Homo sapiens: one gene and its partners. The protein of the gene in region 3 purifies or fractionates together with the protein of the main gene of each other region. This does not show direct contact. Each region holds a gene or a part of one and is shown on either strand. Other genes may lie near its edges. The genes, in order: ANP32A, HSD17B4, ZDHHC5, RANBP2, NCAPD2, CSE1L and RBM25.

Region 1 (3,500 bases), on a different chromosome or scaffold from region 3:
CAAAAATTATAAAATAAATAAATAAAAAAGGAAACAAGTCTCATACTGCTATGGGGAAAGAAAAAAAAAAAGAAAGATGGCCAACTGTGTAAGTCTAGAGTAAGCCACCTTGAGAGGCTGGTGGTGCAGCAGCAGCAGGAAAGAGGGAATTGGGGCTGTGGTGTGCTGTCATAACACAGGCTGCTGTTATGGGGACTAGGATTTGTCCCCTTGAATTTATCTCCTCCTCCCCTTGACCTGGCCAATTTTATAACCATTCCTTCCGTTCATTAGCTCAGGCACAAGACGCTAGAGGGAAAAACTTCTGAAACTCAAAGCCACTATGCTGCTGGTTCATTCCCCAGGAAACACGCATGGTAGAAAAGCAGCAGGCCAAAAACTAGAGATTCCAGGATTATCTGTCATTTTCAAAGATCTGGGCTCTGAAAGGCTGATGTGAGCCACTGGGTGCACAGCTGCCCCGCCTTTGGTTCAAGCCTCAAAGCTCTAACCGTTGCAACCCAAAGCTCTTTCTATCTCTGAGATGACATCTAGAACCTAAGAGTGACCATTCAACTACAAGATACACAGAAGGCTTTGACATGTTCTGAGTACACAACGAAGAATTTCAGCTGGCTATACAGAACTCTAGACGAGAAGTGCTTCATACTAAACCAGTAACAAGGATAATTTCTCTTCCTATGGAGGTTCCTGGGTTGAGGCTGATTTCCACTAGGCACCAATTACTTACAGGGCACAGAACACATAAAAGGACTTAAAAAGACCCTGAGAGTACCACCCAAATATATGGCTTGCCATTTGCTTAAACAAAGCAAAACACTAGATCCCTGGGGCCCACCCTCCAATCTACTGAACCACCTTTTCAGCAAACCTCTTCTGCAAAGGGGGCAGATAGTAAACTTTATCAAGAGCCAAAATTAAGAACACTACATAGGGACTTTTATAACAAGAGAAAAATCTAACACATTTCCACAATTCTTTTATTGATAAAGTTCAGAATATATTGAGTACAATTTTTTTTTTGTAACGAGATCTGTTAACGAGACAAGTGGATTTCTTATTTTTTGGGAGAATAACATTTCAAGTCATTGGGATTCAAAGAGTGTTCCATACCATCAAATTGACTGCAACGTTTATATGTACAAATAATTCTTAGCTCATGACTGTACAAAAATTGGGAGCTCAGTTATAGTTTGGTGATTGCTGTGGTACTCCTGTGATTGGGGTGGAGCCCAGGAATCTGCATTTTACATGCCTCTCACGTGATTCTGGTAATGGGCCATGGACCCAATGGACTATCCAATCCTCGGAATCTCTGTCCACCAAAGGGGCCTGTGGTTTTGCAGTGCGAGAACCCGGCTGTGCCACCTACCAGTTGCTCAACCTCTCCAAAAATCAGATGATTCATCCTCACAACAGGGGTGGCATTGCACTGCTTGGCCTACCCTTAAAGAGTTGCTGGGATGATTAAGTGAGATGATCCATGAGGTGCTATGAGCATACTATGTCCCAGATACTAAAGACATGCCAGTTATGTTGAGTTTTTTTGGCTGCAGATGCAGACTGCCTGAGCAGCTCCTGCTTGTCTTCTCCTTACTCAAAATGTGTCCCCCAGCACCTTGAAGGCCAGATCCACTTCAACCTAACCCACTGTGATGTGCTAAAGCAAACTCAGTGCAAGGCTTCATAAAATGATAATCCACAGCCCCTGGTCCTGAACCTCCTGGCCCTCTAATATCTCCAACCAGGATGCTATCCACTCTTCATTTCAGCGTCTTCAATAATAGAAAACTCATTCTCTTTCTACGGTGGCACCACTCCAAAGCTGGAGAAGAAAAAGCTCTTCCTTACAGTATCTTAAGAAAAAAAGGGTGTTTCAAAGGAGGCAGTAGAGTGTAGAGGTTGAGTATGCAGACTGGCTGAGTTTGAATCCTGGTTCTGCCACTCACTGGTCACATGATAACCCCTGTATGCCTCAATTTCCATATGCACAATGACGATGATAATAATAATACCTACCTCATAGTGCTGTTGTGGGGACTAAATTAGTTGATACATGTAATCCACTTAAGAAATGTGCCAGACACAGCGTGGTTGCTATGTAAGCACTAGCTAATATTGTTATTATCCTAAACCATGGAGGAGCTCAAAGTAATGCCTGGAAGCACCCTGATATGTCTCCGAGACTAAAACTGTCATATAGACAGCATATACTGAGGGCCATATCAAACCAATTTTGTCATCATTTACTGATTAAATAGGATTATTCCGTTTTACAGGTGAAGAAACAAAGCTTCAAAAAGGTAGGTTAAGCTCACCAGCCCAAGGTCACAAGGGCAGGTAAACGTATCCTACCTCCTTGTGGCAGGAGGAATTCAAACCCAGGTCTGTGTAATTCCTAAGCCCATCTTCATCATGGAGCCCCTCAGACTCGAAACTACTATCAGCAGCAGAACTCAACTGACTATGACCACAGGGGAACTCAGGCTCAATTTTCTGCCTGCGAGTTCCTGGTTGGCTTGCATAAACTGTAGTTAATATCATGCTACTTGAACCCAATTAGGCAGTAAGTCAGCCTGGAAAACATCATGCGATGTATTCCAAAGGTCAAAGTAAAAGCTGGCTTCCAAGGCAGCCTCTGCTGGACACTGCCATGAAAGTTAGTTTCTGCACAGATACCAGAGTTCAGCTCGTGAGGTGCTTAACCAGCACCTATATCGGCTTTTTAAAATTCTCAGAGATGCCAGCATCGGAGGACCCGACGCGACGAATTGCCTGGCTCCTAAGTCAACATCCGGAGAAAGGCGGTTTACTTTTTTCAAAAGCAAACCTTCATCCCTCTCTTTCGCTTTAGGATCTCATTACTATTGTAGCTGCCTTCTCCCAGGCAAAAATAAAAGGGGGAAGGAGCAGGTTTAGACCGAGGAGGAGGGTTCCCCTAGCCTGCAGGGCGCTGCAACATCCACCTGAAACACGGAGCTCGACCTACCTTCCCGGAGAGCCCAGCCCGGGAGGGCGTTTCCCCAACGGATCGACAACTCTTCCCTCCCGGGGAACAGGCTGCTGTCCTTGGCTTCAGTCAGGGCCACTAGAGTCGCGTGCGCGACACCCCTCACCCCCGCCAAAAGAACCTCATGTTTAATGTTCCCCTTACTCTATCACTTCCGCCGAAAGAGCAAACACCAGAGCGATCGGTTAGTCCTTAAGGCCACATTTAACTACGTCTGAGCGCCTGCAGGAGGAACGGCGAAACCCCGGAGAGGAGGCGGGGGAGGCAGGGAGCGCGTGGGGGGGGGCATTTGCACAGAGGATCGTCGTCCTCCCGGCGCCGCGGCCGCCGTGACTCTCCAGCACAGCCTCAGGCCGTTGGCGCGGGGCGGAAACCCCCATCGGGGCTCATAGCACAACTGGGGGTCCCCAAAGCCGGCTCCCCCTGCCTCCTCCGCGCGGGAGGCCGTCGGGGTGATGGCGCAAGACTCCGCTCCCCCCGCCCCCCACAG
Region 2 (3,500 bases), on a different chromosome or scaffold from region 3:
CAATAAAGTAATTTACTGAAGTGCATTTTGTTCATTAATTATCTCTTTCCATGCTTTTCAATGTATGTAATTTGAAGTAAAGTGAACAAATTACTTGAAAGATCTTTTTTCCTCCAAAATATGATGAGATGTAGTCAAGAGAATGATCTTCTTGATTGTTAAAAATCAAAGTTTTAATAAACGCTATGTTAAACTTTAGAAACTTATCCTATACATTTGTAGCAATAACAATTTTTATGAAAGAATAGCCATTGGAATAATTTGAAATGAAGGACTGGGAATTAGAATTTGAATTCCTTTAATGACTATTTTGATAAAAGCCTATTTAGACATTTAGTTCATGCTGTGTACACTTCCTCTTGAAATAAGACCTGGAATTACTACTTAAAAAACACTATTATGATTTGTTCCTAGCCAATTTTATTCTATATTAGCAGAACAAATGTACTTTGAGTACCATTACCTCATGTGGCTATTGTGCTATGCCTTTTACTATTTATAAGGATTCAGCATGGACTGAATTCTGTTTATAAGAGTGCATCCCCTGATCCCCACTTCCCCCCCAAAAAATGCCCAAAATACCAAGGCCCAGTCTCTATCAGTGTATTTACATTAGAATTTTGGGGGATGGGACCTCATAGGGTTTCTTTGTTTGTTTGTTTTAAAGGGCTCCAGCTGATTATAAAGCCAGGTTTAGTAACAGTTGTATTAAATCAGAAAGCCTTTATGTTTGTTCATCTTGACATTTACTTTAGCAGCCTTTTATTTTATCTGGATTATTATATTCTTTTTCATATGAGGCAAAAATAATAAATTTTAAACTTTGTACTGTTTCACAGTGAAATTACACTTCCATTGTAATCAGAATAAATCTTTTTTTTTTCTTCTCCTCCTAAGGTCCAAGAAACTGGAGACATTGTCATTTCAAATGCATATGTGGATCTTGCACCAACATCTGGTACTTCAGCTAAGACACCCTCTGAGGTAGGTTATAAAAATTAGTATCCAAGCCACTTCCTCATTTAGGAATTTCAGTTAAGGTGACTTTAAGAGTGGTTAGGCTACGTTAGAAAATTAACAACCATGAAACTATTCTTAATTCTTGAAGTGAAAAACATTAATTCAAAACAGCTTGGAATAGAAGGAATACTCTGGCAATTTATGAACTTTAAAAAACTCGTTTTGCAGGATACTAGGATATCTTTCAAGAGAACATAATTTTCTAGTTTTAGAATAAATAAATCAGTTGTTTAATCAGAATCTTAAGCAAACAGCGTTTTGGAGAAAAATAGATTAAAAAGTTGAATATCCTGTACCTTTTTCTTGATTTAAAGGTTTATATAAAGTTTTGTATGCAAATATATAAACCAGCAGCGTGTATAATTTATTAAAACATTGTATTATTTATTAGCATGCTGAGACTTTTGATAAAAATGTTTATATTCTATCTCTGAAATATTAACTTTGTAATGTTGAGGTTTCGATACCCATGATCTTTAATTGTCTGTCATAAACCATATAACTGACTGAAAATTAAAATCCCTTAAGAATAGTCTAAGAAAAAAAAAAACTTAGAGCGGGCTCGGTGCCTCACGCCTGTAATCCCAGCCCTTTGGGAGGCTGAAGTGGTTAGGTCACTTGAGGTCAGGAGTTCAAGACCAGCCTGGCCAACATGGTGAGACTCCATCTCTACTAAAAATACAAAAATTAGCCAGCCTTGGTGGCAGGCTCCTGTAATCCCAGCTACTCAAGAAGCTGAAGCAGGAGAATCACGGGAACCCGGGAGGTGGAGGTTGCAGTGAGCCAAGATTGCACTACTGCATTCTAGCCTGGGCGACAAGTCTGTCTCAAAAAAAAAAAAAAAAAACAAAAAACAAAAAAAACCCAAAACTTAAGTTTTAGAGCTGTAAAGAAATTCAGACTTCATGTAATTTAGTATTATTTTATAAATAAAAAAAATGAGACCATAGAAGTTGATTAATTTGATCAGGATCTTTCTAAAGTTAGCTAAAACATAGGTTGTCCAGTTCCTATTTTTCTTTTAAAATATTATTTCTGAATTCTAATAAAAGTAAAATCCTGTTATTAAGAGGACTGAGGTTCTGAGTGATGTATACAAATAAGAAAGTATGAAAGACACATTGTATGAAGAAAACTGACTTATGTACAGAGTTTTAAAAAATCTTTTTTTTGCACATGTTTTATAATCACTTTTCTCCATGAGTTATTTTTACAGAACTTTTAAAGTTTATTTTGTTGTCGTTGTTAGGGCGGGAAGCTTCAGAGTACCTTTGTATTTGAGGAAATAGGACGCCGCCTAAAGGATATTGGGCCTGAGGTGGTGAAGAAAGTAAATGCTGTATTTGAGTGGCATATAACCAAAGGCGGAAATATTGGGGCTAAGTGGAGTAAGTTATAGCCCTGATTTTATAATATTCTAAGGTAATTCTTAGTAAATAAAGTATCTTTTTAACAATTAAAGACCTTTGAAGGTAGGTAAATCTTACCTTTTTAGGTAAGTTTTTTTTCTTTTCCCGTGGGAATGAATAGGTTTGGGAATGTCCAAAGGGGGGTGTGTGTGTGTGTGTGTGTGTGTGTGTTTGTGTGTGTGTGTAAGAGATGTAGGGAATCAATTGAAATGAAAATAACCTGTTTTAAGATTTCATTGTAATCCTTGAAAGTAGTTTAAACAGTCATCTTGGCTATATGCATCTTTATCTAATCTTCAGCTTCTTAAACATAAGGCAAATTCATCAAGTCAAAATGAAGTATTTTTAAGTCATGATATTTGACAGTTACAAAATTATTTTATTCATACCAAAACAATAATTTGGATTATCTTAATTATCAATATAAAATCACTATTTTCTAGATATATACAGATTATGGTCAAAGGTGTTTGTTTATCTAATCTAGGGAAATTATCTATTAGAGTGCCATGCACCCAATATAAAACATCTTGCCGCAGAAAGAAAGCAGTCATATTTCTTTTCACTGATGTGGAGGTCCAAAGAGACCCTGGTACCATTTTGTGAAGAAAGAGAAATTAGAGGATAAAAAGAATAAAGAAAAAATATTCTGTCAGATCTTTTGCATCTGCTGTGTAACTCACATCCTTAATCATGGCACACACTTTAATTATGGAATATTCTAACCTCACCTTTATTTTCCTAGAGATTCTTCAATTAGGTTGAAAAGATGAAAATGGATAGGAGGTAGAGCAGTAAGTCCCTGAATTCCCTTTCAGCAGAGTCTGTTGCTTGTCACAGTTATCTTACTGTATTATGGTCATTTATAATTGTATGTTTTCTCTCATTTGACTTTGGGCTTAATCCTGAGAAATGGCTGCAGTTTGTCTATTTCTAGCTTCTAGTATAGTCAATAACACATAATAACTAGCCTGATTCTGTATATGTTGGAATGAGTGCTAAAAGCCATGTAGAAAGCATAGTTTTAGAAAATAGTATGGCTGCCTTTTAAAAAAAAGGTTCTGAAATTGA
Region 3 (3,500 bases):
TCAAGCAATTCTCCTGCCTCAGCTACCCAAGTAGCTGGGATTGCAGGTGCCTGACACCATGCCCGGCTAGTTTTTATATATTTTTATAGTAGAGATGGGGTTTTGCCATGTTGGCCAGTTTGGTCTCAAATTCCGGACCTCAGGTGATCCACCTGCCTCAGCCTCCCAAAGTGCTGGGATTACAGGTGTGAGCTGCCATGCCCAGCCCTTAATTGCTTATTCTTTATCTTAGTTTTCAATATTTAGAAAGCTATCCCATTTTACATGAGGAAACTGAGGTTTTGGGTCAGCAACCATGAGGTAGACCTAGGATTTGAACTAAGGACCCTGACTGTAGATTCCCTGCTCTTAACCATAACATATATAAATTTCTTGTGTTTTACTCATTTGCATAGCCCTCAGATAGTGAGTGCACAATAACTTGTAATAGATTTGTATTTTGGCCTTTGGAAGTCAAGGTCTCATCTTCTAACCTGGTATTTTTTTTCTCCCTCTAGGTTACGGGTAAATTCCGGGGAGGTGTGAACCCCTTCACCAATGGCTGCTGTAACAATGTCAGCCGTGTTCTCTGCAGTTCTCCAGCACCCAGGTACACCTATCCCTCTGGTCTAGTGTTTACCATTGGTCAGAACTTTTATCTTCTTTGGGCTTGTTCTGGTAAAGGAGGGGTCTGGTGAGAGCCTTTAGGAAGGGTTCTCTATCTTAGAATGTTAAGTACCCACTCTATCTTAGAATGGTAAGTAGTCTATCTTAGAATGGTAAGTACCTACATGCCCATCCTTTAGTGCAGTGGTCCCTAACCTTTTTGGCAGCAGGGACCGGTTTCATGGGAGACACTTTTTCCACAGATGGGGGCTGGGGTGGGGTGGTTTCAGGATGAAACTGTTCCACCTCAGATCATGAGGCATTAGATTCTCATGGCTGGGTGTGGCGGCTCACACCCAGCACTTTGGGAGGCCGAGGTGGGCGAATCACTTGAGGTCAGAAGTTCAAGTCCAGCCTGGCCAATATGGTGAAACCCCTTCTCTACTCAAAATACAAAAATTAGCTGGGCAAGGTGGCAGGCACCTGTAATCCCAGCTACTTGGGAGGCTGAGGCAGGATAATTGCCTGAACCCAGGAGGCAGAGGTTGCAGTGAGCTCAGAGCACACATACAACCTAGATTGCTTGCATGTGTAGTTTACAACAGGGTTCTAGGGTTTGCGCTCCTAAGAGAATCTAATGCCTCCGCTGATCTGACAGGAGATGGAGCTCAGGTGATAATGCTCACTGGCCCACTGCTTACCTCCTGCTATGTGGCCCAGTTCCTAACAGGCCATGAACCGGTACTGGTCTGCGGCCCAGGGGTTGGGGACCCCTGCTTTAGTGGACACTGTGAATTCCATTGATATTCTTCAGGTATTAAGGTAAATCTTTGAGAATTGAGGGTGAATAAGATACACTCTAAAGTGCTTTCCTTGAGCTAGGTATCTGCTCACAAAGGCCTAGTCCTGCTGCAGTCCTTCACAGAATCAATTCTGTTTATTGCTAAGTAAGTGATGGCCAAAACTGCAATTACTTTTTTACCAACCTAATAAAAATGGTTTACAGAAACAGTAGATACTTTAAAATATAAATGAATGAAAGCTCTCTCGCTGTGTCTCTCTCTCTCTCTCTCTCGACACTTAGGTATTTGGGGAGACCAAAGAAAGAGAAGACAATTGTAATCAGACCTCCCTTCCTTCGACCAGAAGTTTCAGATGGGCAGATAACTGTGAAGATCATGGATAATGGCATCCAGGGAGAGCTGAGGAGAACAAAGGTGAGGAATTTAGAGAAGTCAAGCTAGATAACATGGAAGTCTCACCCAAGGCAAAGAGACGGAAGCTTGCTTTAGTTTCCTTTGTGTTTTTTTTTTTTTTTTTGAGACAGAGTCTTGCTCTGTTGCCCAGGCTGGAGTGCAGTGGTGCTCAGTGCAAACTCTGCCTCCCAGGTTCAAGCAATTCTCCTGCCTCAGCCTCCCGAGTAGCTGGGATTACAGGTGTCCGTCACCTTGCCTGGCTAATTTTTGTATTTTTAGTAGAGATGGGGTTTTGCCATGTTGGCCAGGCTGGTCTCGAACTTCTGACCTCAGGTGATCTGCCCACCTCGGCCTCCCAAAGTGCTAGGATTACAAGCATGAGCCACCACGCCTGGCCCATATTTCTTACAGTGTTTATCACTTACTAATTTGGGTTAAAATTACTTAAATACAAATCTTGTTTTCTACATTAGATTTTTTTTTTTGAGAGGGAGTCTTGCTCTGTTACCTAGGCTGGACTCCAGTGGTATGATCTCAGCTCACTGCAACCTCTGCCTCCCAGGTTCAAGCGATTCTCGTGCCTCAGCCACCTGGGTAGCTGGGACTACAGGCATGCGCCACCACGCCTGGCTAATTTTTTTATTTTCAGTAGAGGCAGGGTTTTCCTATGTTGGCTAGGCTGGTCTCAAACTCCTGACCTGAAGTGATCCAACCCCCTCAGCCTCCCAAAATGCTAGGATTATAGGTGTGAGCCACTGCACCCGGCCCTACATTAGACTTTAAGTTCATTAACAATAGAAAATGAATTCATTCATTTCCATGTCTTCATAGGACTTAACAGCTTACAGCTAGATGGTAGGAGCTAAACAAGTAGTTGTTGGTTTAAATGGGCAAATAAGTGACAGAATTAAAACCTTTTTTAAACCCTTTCTTCTGCCAGGTACAGTAACTCATGCCTATAATCCCAGCACTTAGCGAGGCTGAGGTGGGAAGATCGCTTGAGTTCAGGAGCTCAAGACCAGCCTGGACAACATAGCGAGACTCCATCTCTAAAACAGACTAAAATAAAAAATAGAAAAATTTTCTGGCTGGGCGTAGTGGCTTATGCCTGTAATCCCAACACTTTGGGAGGCTGAGGTGGGTGGATCACCTGAGGTTGGGAGCTCGAGACCAGCCTGACCAACATGGAGACACCCTGTCTCTATTAAAAATACAAAATTAGCTGGGCATGGTGGCGCATGCCTGTAGTCCTAGCTACTTGGGAGGCTGAGGTAGGAGAATTGCTTGAACCCGGGAGGCGGAGGTTGCAGTGAGCCGAGATCATGCCATTGCACTCCGCCTGGGCAACAAGACCGAAACTCCATCTCAAAAAAAAATTAGCCAGGTGTGGTGGCACATGCCTGTAATCCTAGCTGCTTGGGAGGCTGAGGCATGAGAATCGCTTGAACCTGCGAGCCAGAGGTTGCAATGAGCCGTGATCACGCCACTGCACTCCAGCCTGGGTGACTGAGCAAGACTCCATTTCAAAAAAAAAAACCCAACTTTTCTTCATCTAATGCTATACCCAAACTGATTCTTGTGCCTTGTCTTCCAGTATAGTTGAGAAATATATGATAGGCAGTGGCTCATGTCTATAATCCCAACATTTAGGGTGGCCAAGGTGGGGTGATATTGCTTGAGGCCAGGGGTTCAAGACCAGCTTGGGCAACATGGCGAGAC
Region 4 (3,500 bases), on a different chromosome or scaffold from region 3:
TGTTATTCAGGGTGATGATGTAGCAGATGCAACTTCAGAAGTTGAAGTGTCTAGCACATCTGAAACAACACCAAAAGCAGTGGTTTCTCCTCCAAAGTTTGTATTTGGTTCAGAGTCTGTTAAAAGCATTTTTAGTAGTGAAAAATCAAAACCATTTGCATTCGGCAACAGTTCAGCCACTGGGTCTTTGTTTGGATTTAGTTTTAATGCACCTTTGAAAAGTAACAATAGTGAAACTAGTTCAGTAGCCCAGAGTGGATCTGAAAGCAAAGTGGAACCTAAAAAATGTGAACTGTCAAAGAACTCTGATATCGAACAGTCTTCAGATAGCAAAGTCAAAAATCTCTTTGCTTCCTTTCCAACGGAAGAATCTTCAATCAACTACACATTTAAAACACCAGAAAAGGGTAAGTACTTTGTTGTTAAAGTTAAGCACAATTTTTCTTTCTTTTAATGTTTAGCTTGATGCAGACTCTTTGTAGGATACTAATGTTGGGATATAAATGATGCTTTGTGAACACCCCCAAAATATTTGAGCAATTTTTTTTCTCCCTTAATAAGTTCACGGTGAGGTTTCAAAGAGCAAGAGAACTTAGTTTAAGACATTTCAGTAACTGGAAGATACTTTTATCATGCTAGGGCAGAGCAAAAGAACTCGGTACGGTATACGGACTCATGCTTGAATCATGCACATTAACGTGAGTCTTTTTTTAAAGTGTTCATTTTCATTTGTTCAGTTTCTTTTGTCACTCAGAAAACATGATATTGAGGCTGGGCACGGTGGCTCACTCCTAGAATGCCAGCACTTTGGGAGGTTGAGGTGGGCAGATCACTTGAGCTCAAGAGTTCGAGACCAGCCTGGCCAGCATGGTGAAACCCTGTTTCTACTGAAAATACAAAAATGAGCCGGGCGTCGTGGTGCGTGCCTATAATTAGCAGCTACTTAGGAGGCTGAGGCAGGAGGATCACTTGAGCACAGGAGATGGAGGTAGCAGTGAGCTGAAATCATGCCACTGCACTCCAGCCTGACTGAGTGACTGAGACTTTGTCTCCAAAAAAAAAAAAACAACGTGATATTGAGATGTTCTCATTTTATATGTTGTATGTCAGTCTTGCTCATGTATTAAATGAGCAAAGAATGAAACTACAGGGATAAATGAATATGTAAGACAATCAGATTGGTGGTATAAATTGAGGGATTCTGGCTTTTTATGTTTTAAAAGCATATTCATTTTGTTTCCTAAAATGTTAAAAAACGAAATATTCTTTATTTTCTAGGATTTAATTTTAGCCTTTTTAAATCTAATCCCATGGCCTTTTGGACTAGCACCCCTTCCTCACAGCCTGAGAGCAAAGGTATAGAACTAGCATTCTCAGTATGAGATAACAGCAGTTTTTAGCAGCTGGGTAGCCCTTAGCAAAGTATTAATAACTGTGGCTGTATGAAATGAAGTACTTACCACTACAACATGCATGTTAAAGAATGCCAGTTTAAGCAAAGTACCTTTTGACTGGTGGCATGACACCCTTGTTGGTTTGTTTTTTAAAATGTACTGGGATGCTGATTTGTAATGTACTTCATTGCTCTGCTATTTCAGGTCTGCTCAATGAAGACCTATGTTTTATCTAATGTTTATGTTTAGCCACTAACGTCTGCCAGTATTCAAATGTAGTGGCAACGGCATGTATACAATATGGAAGAGTGTCCCTGTAGGGCTGTTCTTTTGTGCATGGTTTAGAAAAATGTTGTATTTGAAAATGGACCCCGTTTTTAACAGCCAGCATTCTACAGCTTGCATATTATATATGTTGCACCGATCAATTTTAGAAGTGTGGCTACTAGAGTGGAACAAGAAGTGGGATCTGTTGAAGGCCTTCAAGAACAGGTTAGGGAAGTGAAATCTCACCCTTAGTGACCAGTAACACATCTTAGCCATGCCAAACAAGTACAATGATAAAGTAGCAATCTCTGATTTTTTTTTTTAAGTATACCAGTTTTATTACTAGCTAAGGTAGCTCTTAATCTTTTATTTTTAAAGATACGGTCTTTGAGAAATGTGAAAAGTGTTAACTTAAAAGTGGATGTATACTTGCGTACAGTTTCTGTGAGCTCTAGGTTAGGAATCCCTGACCTAAGAATGAATGTGCCTATATACTACTGTAGAACATAGAGCCTTATTTTGTTTTGAATCTGATAATGTCATTGTCCCAAGGGACCTTAGAAATGAAGACTTTAGACATGAGTAAACTGAGGCCAAGAGAGGCTATCTGATTTACCCAAGGTGTCTTTACTGAGTAATAGCAGAAGTGGAACAAGAATCTGTATCTTACGGTGTACTGTTATTTCTCCTAGCTAGAAAATGATACTAAGTTTTTGTTTATAATGAAGGAGAGGGACAAATTTAACATTGTAAAAGGAAGGGCACTGGTTCTGCAGAGCAGTGTCATCCAGTAGAAATAAAATATAACCTGTGTATGTAATTTAAAATTGTCATTTGGTGCAATGGCTTGTGCCTATAATCCCAGTTACTTGGGAGGCTGAGGCAGAGGGATCACTTGAGCCCACAAGTTCCAGGCTTTAGTGAACTGTGATCACATCACTGCACTCCAGCTCTGGGTGACAAAGCAAGACTGCATCTCAAATAAATAAATAAATAAATAAATTTTCTAGTAGCCATATTAAAAAGAATAAAAAGAAACAGTTAAAAAGGGAAACAGATGAAAGTAACTTTATTGATAGATTTGATTTAACTTATGTCCAAAATATCATTTTAACTTCTAATTAATATAAAAATTAATGATATTTTACATTATTGTTTTTCACCAAGTCTTCAAAATCCAGTGTGTGTGTTTACACTTACTGTTAGCACGTCTTGATTTGGACTAGCCACCTTGTGAGGTTTTAATAGAATGTGGCTAGGCTACCATATTGGACACCATAGCTCTCAGAATGTTTCCCTATCACTAGTTGGTATACATGGCATGCTTCATGACTGGCTTGCTTTATTAAACTCCTTTAGCCAGAAGTTCAGAACAGGTTGCATATAGAAGTTTTTTCTCTTTCTAATTTTTTGCCCTTTGCATTGATGGTGGCTGGGGATGGGTTGTTTTTAGCCATATGAATGGTCTTAGATTTTATAGTGTTAGCTACCTATAGAGTCACAGTTGTTATTTAATTTTACTTAGTATCATGCTTGAACATAGGCAAACTAGATGCAACTCTAGTCACCTTCCATTCTTGGCAATTGTTAACTTTCCTTACAGAAACTAATCACAGTTGGCTTTGGATTAGTTTCATATGTATAGTAATACTTGCCTATGTTTTAAGATTTTTTTCAATTGCTGCAAATGCATGGATATTTTGGTAAACTATTGTATGCTAAGTATAGTTAGGCAACACTTTAAAATTTTTAACCTTTATAAATTCTAGAAATTTATAGTAATTCTTTTCAATGACTATTAAGTAAACACAAATTTTTTTTTGTTTTCTTTGGTTTTAA
Region 5 (3,500 bases), on a different chromosome or scaffold from region 3:
TCGAAGTTTCTCATGCTTATTTTCCTTGGGGAGGGAATAAAGAAAGATTGGAAATACATTATCTGTGCAACAGTAGATTCCTTCAGATATTAGATACCTGTCTTACCTTCCCTTACTGGGAACTGAATAATTGATCTATGTTGCTATGGCTGTGTTTTCTTCCCTGTGTAGAGAGATTGGACAAAAGTGTCCCCAAGAGCTGAGTCGAGACCCTTCAGGGACAAAGGGCTTTGCAGCATTCCTGACAGAACTAGCAGAACGTGTCCCAGCTATCCTGATGTCCAGCATGTGCATTTTGCTAGATCACCTGGATGGAGAAGTAGGTGGTCCACTAGGGGTCACTGAGCTTTTTCTGGGGATTTTAAGTCCAGTGTTGAAAGGCTGTTTCTTAACAGAACAAGAAAGTAGCTTTGACAAGTTGTCTAGATTTATCATTGTGACATTTCCTTTCTGTAGAGAAGCAGGTCAAGTTTGTTGAATAAGGAGCTCTTTATTAATCTGTTAATCTTTCAATTCACATTGCTTTTATCCAGTTCTGGTAAGGGAGATGACATTTCTGCAGCTTAAGTCTAGTAAGAGCAACTCAGCTTTGATTTTTTTTTTTTCTTGGAGGTAGGATCTGGCTCTGTCACCCATGCTGGAGCATGATCATAGCTCATTGCAGCCTCGATCTCCTGGGCTCAAGCAATCCTCCCACCTCAGCCTCCCAAGTAGCTGGGACTTCAGGCACATACTACCATGCCTGGCTAATTTTTTTAGTTTTTGTAGAGGTGGGGTCTTGCCATATTGCCCAGGCTAGTCTCAAACTCCTGGTCTCAAGCAACCCTCCTGCCTCAGCCTCCCAAAGTGCTGGGATTGCAGGCGCTACCATGCTTAGCCTTCAGCTTTGATTCTGAGTCCCATCTGTTCCTCAGGATAAAGCGTCTTCCCACCAGCTGGCTTGCCTTGCTTCCTCAAACAATGAACTTTCTCAAATCAACCCATGTCATCTCTCTCAATTCTCTTTTATGCCTGAATGCTAACCTGGCTGATTCCCATACTGATGTTGGGCACTCCTAGGTGAATGTCAAGGACAAAGACAGTCCACTTGTTCATCTCATTTACTTTAACTTTTTGTGCAAGACCCTATTCTCTGGTTCTTAGCCTGGCAAAACCTTAACCCTGCTCTCCACTAGATTATGTATTGGACTTGCTGGCACTCTTAAGGCTGATTTCCATGTTTCTGTCTCATTTTCTGTCAGTAAAGCATCTGAAGGAGAGTGGGAGGGAAAGGAGGGGATATTTATTAGTAAGGATTAAAGACTTTGAGGCCAGGTGTGGTGGCTCACGCCTGTAATCCCAGCACTTTGGGAGGCTGAGGTGAGTGGATCACTTGAGGTCAAGAGTTTAAGACTAGCCTGGCCAACATGGTGAAATCCCATCTCTACTAAAAATACAAAAAAAAATTAGCTGGGTGTGGTGGCGCGCACCTGTAATCCTAGCTACTCGGGAGGCTGAAGTGGGAGGGTTGCTTGAACCTGGGAAATGGAGGTTACAGTGAGCCGAGATCGCACCACTGCACTCCAACCTGGGTGACAAAACGAGACTCTGTCTCAAAAAAAAAACCAAAAAAAACCACACAGACGGGCGCGGTGGCTCACGCCTATAATCTCAGCACTTTGGGAGGCCGAGGAGGGTGGATCACGAGGTCAGGAGTTTGAGACCAGCCTGGCCAATATGGTGAAATCCTGTCTCTACTAAAAATACAAAAATTAGCTGGGTGTGGTGGCGGGCACCTGTAATCCCAGCTGCTTGGGAGGCTGAGGCAGGAGAATCACTTGAACCCGGGAGTCAGAGGTTGCAGTGAGCCGAGATGGCGCCACAGCACTCCAGCCTGGGCAACAGAGCAAGACTCCGTCTCAAAAACAAACAAACAACCACAATAACAAAGGCTTTGAGACCTCAGCTGAAGGGTAGTTAATAAATGCTTTTCAAATGTGTGTTGGTGAGTGGATGTGATTTTTTTATTCAGCTACTACCATGCTTTCCTGTGTGAGCCCTATGAGGAAAAATTGGTTTTGGCCCTTGTTCTAGCATTCTCTGAGCAACAAGTCCTCTTTGGGATTCAGCTTTCTCCTGTGACCTTGGGAGTGAATACCTAGGCAGTTAATGGAAAAAGTTATGGCCAAGCACAAGCAAGCTTCGCCTTGACTAAAGGTTTGACCCCTCTATGCTTCTCTCTCTTAGAATTACATGATGCGTAATGCTGTGCTGGCAGCCATGGCGGAGATGGTGCTGCAGGTTCTCAGTGGCGATCAACTGGAAGCAGCAGCCCGAGACACCAGAGACCAGTTCTTGGATACTTTACAAGCCCATGGCCATGATGTCAACTCCTTTGTGCGGAGCCGTGTTTTGCAGCTCTTCACCCGAATTGTCCAGCAGAAGGTAACCAACTTCTATGTGGCAAAAACATATGGTACCTCTCCATATACCAGTGTAAAGAGGAATCCAGTGTTGAAGATAAATATCTGCCCCAAAGAGGTCTAGAATTCACATTTTTATTATCAGTAGTAAAAGTCTTCCTCTACCAAGGACGAGGATATCTGGCTCCCTTTAAGGACTGTAATGTGTCTTACCACTACAAGGAGTACTCCTAATCTATATTCTGTAGAAAGGGTTTTTAGAGTGAGTGGGTAGCTCAGTTTAGAGTATACTTAAAGATCATCTTGAACAAAATGGATGATGTGGGACTTGAGCAGATTCTTCTCTTCCTACCCTACACAGGCTCTCCCCCTGACACGTTTCCAGGCAGTGGTGGCTTTAGCTGTGGGACGTCTGGCAGACAAGTCAGTGCTAGTATGTAAAAATGCCATCCAGCTGCTGGCCAGTTTTCTAGCCAATAATCCTTTCTCCTGCAAGGTAAGTAGACTTGGTCCACCAAAAGAGAAGGAATTAAATGGAAACAGGGATGAAATTATGTCATTTACTGACCCTGCTATTCATTTTACCTGATAGCTTAGTGATGCTGACCTTGCCGGACCACTGCAGAAGGAGACCCAGAAATTACAAGAGATGAGGGCCCAGAGGCGAACTGCAGCAGCTTGTAAGTAGTTACTGCCTTGGAGTCCTAATGCCAGACAGGCTTCTCCTTGCAGTCAGAAACTCTAGTGAAAGAGACTAAGTGACACTCTCATTTAGCTGCAGTGCTGGACCCAGAGGAGGAGTGGGAAGCCATGCTGCCAGAGTTGAAGTCTACCCTGCAGCAGCTTCTACAGCTTCCCCAGGGAGAGGAGGAGATTCCTGAGCAAATTGCCAATACAGAGACAACTGAAGATGTGAAAGGACGCATCTATCAACTGCTTGCCAAAGCTAGTTACAAGTAGGCAAAAGAATGGGATATTCTTCGTGATCTGTTTATGTTTAGAGTTAACCTTTGAGAAACTTACATAATGTGTCTTTTAAATTAACTGCACACAGATATGCTGCCACCAGGTGATGGTAGATGTTTTCATGTAGTAATG
Region 6 (3,500 bases), on a different chromosome or scaffold from region 3:
TAGCTAGGACTACAGGCGTGCACCACCACACTCAACTAATTTTTATTTTTTTTTTGTAGAGATGGCACCATGTTGCCCAGGTTGGTCTCAAACTCCTGGACTCAACCAATCTGCTTACCTTGGCCCCCCAAAGAGCTGGGATTACAGGCATGAGCCACCCTACTTGGCCAAAATGAATGTTTTGTTTCTAGTTTGAGTCATTTTTAGATCAGTAACACTTTTTGCATTTATATATTGCTAATATTTCAGAGTGTCAAAGTACCTTTACTTGTGGTTGCATAAGATAATTAGAGCTTGATCTTGTTGATAATTATGAATACCTGTAAAATGTTCTCTAAAAGTCCCTGATTTCTCTTATTTTCTCAAATTAAGGATAAGCTTAGAATTCGGTTTTATAGACTATATCTGCAAGGCGATATAAAAAGGATTTGTTGACAAATAGTTCCTTAAAGAATATTCCCAAAGAATAAACTTTGGAAGGCCAAGGTGGGCGGATCACTTGAGCTCAGGAGTTCCAGACCAGCCTGGGCAACACTGGAACCATGTCTACAGAAACAACACAAAAATTAGCCAGGTGTGGTGGTGTGTGCCTGTAGTCCCAGCTACTTGGGAGGTTGAAGTAGGAGGATGGCTTGAGCCCAGGAGGCAGAGGTTTCAGTGGGCCAGAATTACACCACTGCATTTCTCCAGCCTAGGTAACAGACCCAGACCCTGTCTCAAAAAAGAGTATTAAGATTCTGGGATCTATGTAGTATTTTAACTTTGAGGGATTATAACATGCATATTTATATAACCCCTCACTTTTTTTTAAACTTAAAAATAGTCCTACCCTAGCATCTCAACTTAATCATTTTAGGTTTCATTCTATTATGTGGTTTTATTTATTTATTTTTATTTTATTTTATTTTATTTTATTTTATTTTTGGAGACAGGGTTTCACTCAGTCACCCATACTGGACTGCAGTGGCAAGACCTCAGCTTATTGCAGCCTAGACCTCCCGGGCTCAAGCAATCCTCCTGCCTCAACTTCCCTAGTAGCTAGGACCACAGGAGGGTATCACCAAGCCCAGCTAATTTTTTTTTTTTTTTTTTTTTTTTTTTGAGATGGGAGTTTCACTTTTGTTGCCCAGGCTAGAGCTAGAGTGCAATGGTGCAGTCTTGGCTCATTGAAACCTCTGCCTCCCGGGTTCAAGCAATTCTCCTGTCTCAGCCTCCTGAGTAGCTGGGATTACAGGCGCATGCCACCACGCCCGGCTAATTTTTTTTTTTTTGTATTTTTAGTAGAGACGGGGTTTCATCACATTGGTCAGGCTGGTCTCGAACTCCTGACCTCAGATGATCCGCCTGCTTCGGCCTCCCAAAGTGCTGGGATTACAGACGTAAGCCACCGCGCCCGGCCTGAGCCCAGCTAATTTTTAAAATTTTTTGTAGAGACAGGATCTCACTATTGTTGCCAAGTCTGGTCTTGAACGGTCCTTGGGGTCAAGTGATCGTCCCATCTCCACCTCCCAAAGTGCTGGGATTACAGAAGTGAGCCACCTTGCTCAGCCTGTTGTGGTTTTAGAATCTAGAAGGTTGTGTCCACCTCTTTCTGTTTGACACAGTCAACCAACCAAAATAAAGATGAAGAATAATATTTTTGATGGAAACATCAAAGGTATCTAGCTTTTTAAAATAGTACAACAAATATATAACGGGTGCTCATCACTATTGTAAGGCTCTAGGGAGAGAGCAGTGAACAAAGCACAAAGTCCCTACTATCAGTGGAGTTTACAATCTAGTGAAGAGAGAAGCACAGTAAATGACAAAAGAAATTAATATGCCTGATAAAATGTACTTGGAAAATAGTAGAGTAAGGGCATGGAGAGTAACTGAGGTGAATGCTCTTTTAGATAGGATGGTGCAGCAAGGCATCTCTGAAAAAAAGATGACATTTGAAAAGAGTCCTTCCAGGCCGGGCACGGTGGCTCATGCCTGTAATCCCAGCACTTTGGGAGGCTGAGGCGGCAGATCACCTGAGGTCAAGAGTTTGAGATTAGCCTGGCCAACACGGTGAAACCGCATCTTTACTGTATATAAAACTCAGCCGGGCGTGGTGGCACGCACCTGTAGTCCCAGCTACTTGGGAGGTTGAGGCAGGAGAATTGCTTGAACCTGGGAGGCGGGGACTGCGGTGAGCTGAGATCACGCCACTGCACTCCAGCCTGGGTGACAGAGCAAAGACCCCTGTCTCCAAAAAAAACAAGAGTCCTGAATGAGAATGAAGTGGGCAGTGCAAACCTTGTAGCTTTCCGTGTGCAGAGCTCTGCAGGCAGAAGGAATGGTAAGTACAGAACCCTGAAACAAAAGTAAAATCACTGGCATGTTTGAACAGGTAATACAGGATAAATTTTATCTTTTTTCAGAGACAGAGTCTTACTCTGTTGCCCAGATTGGAATGCAATGGCATGATCATAGCTCACTGCAGCCTTAAAATTCTGAGCTTAACCAGTCCTTCTGCCTCAGCCTCCAGAGCAGCTGAGACTACAAGTGCTCGCCACCATGCCTGGCTAATTTTTATTTATTGTAGAGACAGGGTCTCACTATGTTGCCCACGCTGGTCTTGAAATCCTAGCCTCAAGTGATCCTTCCGCCTCGGCCTTCCAAAGCGCTGGGATTACAGGCATGAGCCATTCTGCCAGGCCAGAACAAATCTAAAAATTCACTTTCTTGAAGTACTTTTGAATAAACAAATTTAATTGTGGCAGTTAAGTTGGTCATTTGTTCATCTGACATTCATGCAACTGAGTTCCCACATTATGTTGGGGCTGCTAATGATTGATCTGAAGGGATAGTCTCCAGTCTTGACTGGAAACTCATGTTTTGCTGGGTGACTGACATGTTGTGACTTATCCTTTAGTTCATACAACAAATGCTTACTAAATATGTACTGTGTGCCAGGTAATGCTGAAGGTCCTGAGCATACAGACGAAAGTCCCTGCCCTCAGGAGCTTGCAGTCTAGTGTGTGTATGAGACGACAAAGAAGTTTATTTCAAATGAGGGTAATTGCTAACACAGTAAAACAAGGATGATGTAGATGGTAATCGTAGAAGGCCTTTTTGAAGAGTTGACAGTGGGCTGAGTGCTGAATGGTGTCCATTATCAAATTAGAGGATGAGCATTATTATGGTCAGGGAGAACTCTTGTGGCCAGTTTGTAGAACAGAAGGCTTTTGTGCCTGGAATGTAGCAAGAGCCAGGAGGAGGTAGGAGATGAGGTCAGTAGATACCAGATTGCTTAGACCCTGCTGTGGTAAGGGATTTGGTGGTGGTGGTGGTGGTGGTGGTTGTTTTGGAGATAGGGTCTCACTCCCATTGCCCAGTCTGTAGTGCAGTGGCCTGATCACAACTCACAGCAGTCTCAATTTGCTGGATCTACAGGTGTGTGCCACCACACCTGGCTAATTTTTTGTATATTTAGTAGAGACAGGGTCTTGCTGTGTTAGCCCAGGCTGGTCTGA
Region 7 (3,433 bases), on a different chromosome or scaffold from region 3:
GCAGACCCTATCTCAAACAAACAAACAGAAAGATTTCACGTGAATGCATGTAAAACTACTTGTCATTAGTGGTTATTTAATAGTGCAATGCTAGACCATGAATTAGAACCCCATATATACTCCTCTAGATAAACCACCTGCAGGGACTACTGACATAATTACAATGGGCAAAACAGACTAGGTGACCTCTAAAGCCCCTTCCACATATTACTACTTCTACTGAGAATCTTCCTATTTCCCATTTCCTCTCAGCTTATCACATTTGATAATTCACATAGTATTTTGTATTTATGTCTAATGATGTTCCTGAACTCGTGTAATTTTTTTTGCCACCATTAGATGATCAGCTAACAGAAATACATGTATTTTTTTGAGATGGAGTTTTGCTCTTGTTGCTCACGCTGGAGTGCAGTGGCGCAATCTCGGCTCTCTGCAACCTCCACCTCCTGGGTTCAAGATGCTGTCTCAAAAAAAAAAAAAAAAGTAGACAGACTCAGGAGTGTCATTTAATTCAAACAACATGGCTTGAAAAGAATTTTTATTTTTGTTTCTAGAAATTATCTTCTTTACCTGGGTATTTTAGACTGCCATTCTTTAATTTCGCCTTCATGACTCAAGTAATGAAATGCAAAGATTCTGTCAATTAAAAATGTAAGCATTCAAATGCAAATAAATTAACATAAATATTTCAGTATTTTACCATAATCACATTACAAAAAATCTATCAGTTTATCAAAAAGTGTAAGTTCACTTCGCTCTATAGTATGATTGTTATATTAGTAGCTCCTGGGTTTGGTATGTATCTCCCTGTTTTCTTCTTGACAGCTAGACTGTTTCTTTGCCTGCTTGGGATTCCTTCTCATACCCTTTTATCTCCAGTGACATTCACAAATCAATCCCTCATCATCTTTTGTTGAGCAAAACTATTTCTCAATTTCATACTTAACAGAAGACTGAAATACAACCCAGAGAAGTTTGTAATCAATTTGACATAAAACCTCTCAGCAGTCTTTTGGGTATAAATTGGGGATATCATAAAACCTGTTAAAAAGAGTTGGGAAAATAAGCCTCATCTAAACATTGTATACCTGCTTACACTTATTTGCATTAAATTTATTCCATTAAAAAGGAGAAAAAAAGATAGTGTCTAGTTCAAATTGGCTCTCAAGCTAAATGTTTTCTCAGTTTTTCTACTATATCTAGTATTCATGGCAGATTAATACCTGAAACAGCACGCTTCACAAAATAATCATTAGCTTACACTTACATAGTTTACAGGGAAATGCCATAATAAGATTCAGAATAAGTTACAACATAAAGTTATCTACAGAAAAAATTTTCAGGGCTGGATGGAAAAAAAGCCTAGAATATTAGGGCTTTCTCAGACATAATTTTGCAAGATTACATTACGTTCATGAGTTACGTGTATTTGCCTCAAAAAATGTTTTTCTCTTTAAAATCTACTTAAAGGAAAATTCAGCTGCATTTATGTAGTCTGTTAGGATAAAATAATACTGAATAGACACCTTAAAGTGCTAATCAAAATGTAGTCTTGGATCAGTTGGCAATGACATTAGCTGGGAGCTGTCCAGAAATGCAAAGCCTGCGGCGCCACCCCAGCGCTGCTACTTCAGTGTCTCTATTTCTACAAGCACTCCTCAGATGATTTGGGGTCACATTAAAGTTTAAGAAAAACAACTTCAAACTTACCTTTCTTCCTTGTGAACAGATGTACATACTTTATTTTTAGGGACAAATAAAGAAAAGTAGTATTCTACTACTTTTTTGCCAGATCAAGACTGGTTCTTAAGATGTTCACGCTTTGGCCAGGCAAGGTGGCTCACGCCTGTAATACCAGCACTTTGGGAGGCTGAGGCGGGTGGATCACCTGAGGTCAGGAGTTTGAGACCAGCCTGGCCAACAAGGTGAAATCCTGTCTCTACTAAAAATACAAAAAATTAGCCAGGTGTCGTGGTGGGCACCTGTAATCCCAGCTACTCAGAAAACTGAAGCAGAATATCTCCAGAACCCGGGAGGCGGAAGTTGAAGTGAGCTGAGCTCGCGCCATTGCACTCCATCCTGGGCGACAAAAGCACAACTTCCTCTCAAAAAAAAAAAAACCCCAAAAAAACAACAAAAAAAGACTTTCATGCTCTTTATATAACAACTTGAAATGGCAAAATGAATTCATACTGTATAAGGTTTTCAAACTAAAATTAATTTATGAGATTATGGTAAAATTAACCCACAAAGTTCAAGCAACTTAATAGAAATTTCTTATGTGTATTTTCAGACACTAGAATATGCCTGTTTAATGTCTAATTCTTTATATATACAATTCTAAAAATCAACCAACTCTGACAATCTAAAGCCTTTTACTGAAGCTTGGTTACAAAACATGATTTAAACTGGCATTAAGCGATTAACAGTTTCTACCACATTTACTGTAACAATTTTCACTCTGCTGCAGAAACTTTAATATATGAACTTGCACAAATTCATATATTTAGTTGAGGTCCTGTCACAAACCTCACTGGAGATGTTATGCAGTACAGAGTACATCTCCCCAAAGGTTTCAGATTACGACATCTCCCTTGTTTTTAGAGTGGCCCTTTAAGATAAGTACAGTTGACAGAGCAGGAGAAGAAACGAAGCAAAGGAAATCAAATCTACCTGAATAAACCTTCATGTTAATAGTGGCTAAATAAAAACAACACAATATGATGCTTAAGAACAGTGCAGTATGTTAAGAAAAGACAGACACAATAAACTCCTCGAACAAGGTCTTAGGCTGGGGGTGTGTCTAAGAAAAGACTGAAAAATTAACGAAAATGGCAAGGGGCATCTTTTCTGAAATTTTCCGTTGAGAAACCAGAATTTAAAATAAAAGAGACATTTCCATAGATGTATAGTAGATTCATCCAAAATAATGTAAATGGCTTCCTTGACCTTTAGATACCAATAGTCATAAAAATCAAGTCCATAAAAAGTTCAGCCCATATTTTTAACTTTTCTAGTATGCACCACACAATTACAACATGATGCCATTTATTTACATGATTCTGAAAGAATATGAGTCCCCAGGATCAAATATATACATTTTTAATATTTGAAATATTTACATAATGGAACCACATCAGGGTTCGAGGGTAAGAACAGTGTTTTCAAATGTCCTCTCCAGGTGTGTTTAAAAAAAAAAAAAATCCAGTAATCCAAAGCTCACATTATGCTTTTTCTAACAGGCCAATCTTTACCTTTCTTTTAAATAAGTACTCAGACATGGGAACAGTTGCATCTAATTTGTGTGAAAAGCTGTTTAAAACTTCTTACGTTTTCAGGTAATTTTACTCCCTGGTGAAATTCTGATCTACAACGAAGAAAGCCCCAGGAATTTCTCTAAGCACATCATCAGTACATTTTTAAACACTAATGA

What was found.
Region 1: the proteins of ZDHHC5 (region 3) and ANP32A purify together in Homo sapiens (co-immunoprecipitation; one large-scale study listed by IntAct). This does not show direct contact.
Region 2: the proteins of ZDHHC5 (region 3) and HSD17B4 purify together in Homo sapiens (co-immunoprecipitation; one large-scale study listed by IntAct). This does not show direct contact.
Region 4: the proteins of ZDHHC5 (region 3) and RANBP2 purify together in Homo sapiens (co-immunoprecipitation; one large-scale study listed by IntAct). This does not show direct contact.
Region 5: the proteins of ZDHHC5 (region 3) and NCAPD2 purify together in Homo sapiens (co-immunoprecipitation; one large-scale study listed by IntAct). This does not show direct contact.
Region 6: the proteins of ZDHHC5 (region 3) and CSE1L purify together in Homo sapiens (co-immunoprecipitation; one large-scale study listed by IntAct). This does not show direct contact.
Region 7: the proteins of ZDHHC5 (region 3) and RBM25 purify together in Homo sapiens (co-immunoprecipitation; one large-scale study listed by IntAct). This does not show direct contact.

What each region holds. Positions count from the first base shown.
Region 1 is NC_000015.10:68,814,396-68,817,895, forward strand, and holds part of ANP32A (acidic leucine-rich nuclear phosphoprotein 32 family member A), read right to left. Parts: intron 1-3,500. UniProt on the Homo sapiens protein: Multifunctional protein that is involved in the regulation of many processes including tumor suppression, apoptosis, cell cycle progression or transcription. Promotes apoptosis by favouring the activation of caspase-9/CASP9 and allowing apoptosome formation.
Region 2 is NC_000005.10:119,528,997-119,532,496, forward strand, and holds part of HSD17B4 (peroxisomal multifunctional enzyme type 2), read left to right. Parts: intron 1-897; coding exon 898-984; intron 985-2,269; coding exon 2,270-2,408; intron 2,409-3,500. UniProt on the Homo sapiens protein: Bifunctional enzyme acting on the peroxisomal fatty acid beta-oxidation pathway.
Region 3 is NC_000011.10:57,692,114-57,695,613, forward strand, and holds part of ZDHHC5 (palmitoyltransferase ZDHHC5), read left to right. Parts: intron 1-497; coding exon 498-589; intron 590-1,669; coding exon 1,670-1,802; intron 1,803-3,500. UniProt on the Homo sapiens protein: Palmitoyltransferase that catalyzes the addition of palmitate onto various protein substrates such as CTNND2, CD36, GSDMD, NLRP3, NOD1, NOD2, STAT3 and S1PR1 thus plays a role in various biological processes including cell adhesion, inflammation, fatty acid uptake, bacterial sensing or cardiac functions.
Region 4 is NC_000002.12:108,767,982-108,771,481, forward strand, and holds part of RANBP2 (E3 SUMO-protein ligase RanBP2), read left to right. Parts: coding exon 1-407; intron 408-1,278; coding exon of another isoform or gene 1,279-1,356; intron 1,357-3,500. UniProt on the Homo sapiens protein: E3 SUMO-protein ligase which facilitates SUMO1 and SUMO2 conjugation by UBE2I. Involved in transport factor (Ran-GTP, karyopherin)-mediated protein import via the F-G repeat-containing domain which acts as a docking site for substrates.
Region 5 is NC_000012.12:6,514,602-6,518,101, forward strand, and holds part of NCAPD2 (condensin complex subunit 1), read left to right. Parts: intron 1-171; coding exon 172-319; intron 320-2,226; coding exon 2,227-2,424; intron 2,425-2,763; coding exon 2,764-2,898; intron 2,899-2,994; coding exon 2,995-3,082; intron 3,083-3,177; coding exon 3,178-3,358; intron 3,359-3,500. UniProt on the Homo sapiens protein: Regulatory subunit of the condensin complex, a complex required for conversion of interphase chromatin into mitotic-like condense chromosomes.
Region 6 is NC_000020.11:49,049,312-49,052,811, forward strand, and holds part of CSE1L (exportin-2), read left to right. Parts: intron 1-3,500. UniProt on the Homo sapiens protein: Export receptor for importin-alpha. Mediates importin-alpha re-export from the nucleus to the cytoplasm after import substrates (cargos) have been released into the nucleoplasm.
Region 7 is NC_000014.9:73,120,967-73,124,399, reverse strand, and holds the end of RBM25 (RNA-binding protein 25), read right to left. Parts: 3' UTR 501-3,433; downstream 1-500. UniProt on the Homo sapiens protein: RNA-binding protein that acts as a regulator of alternative pre-mRNA splicing. Involved in apoptotic cell death through the regulation of the apoptotic factor BCL2L1 isoform expression.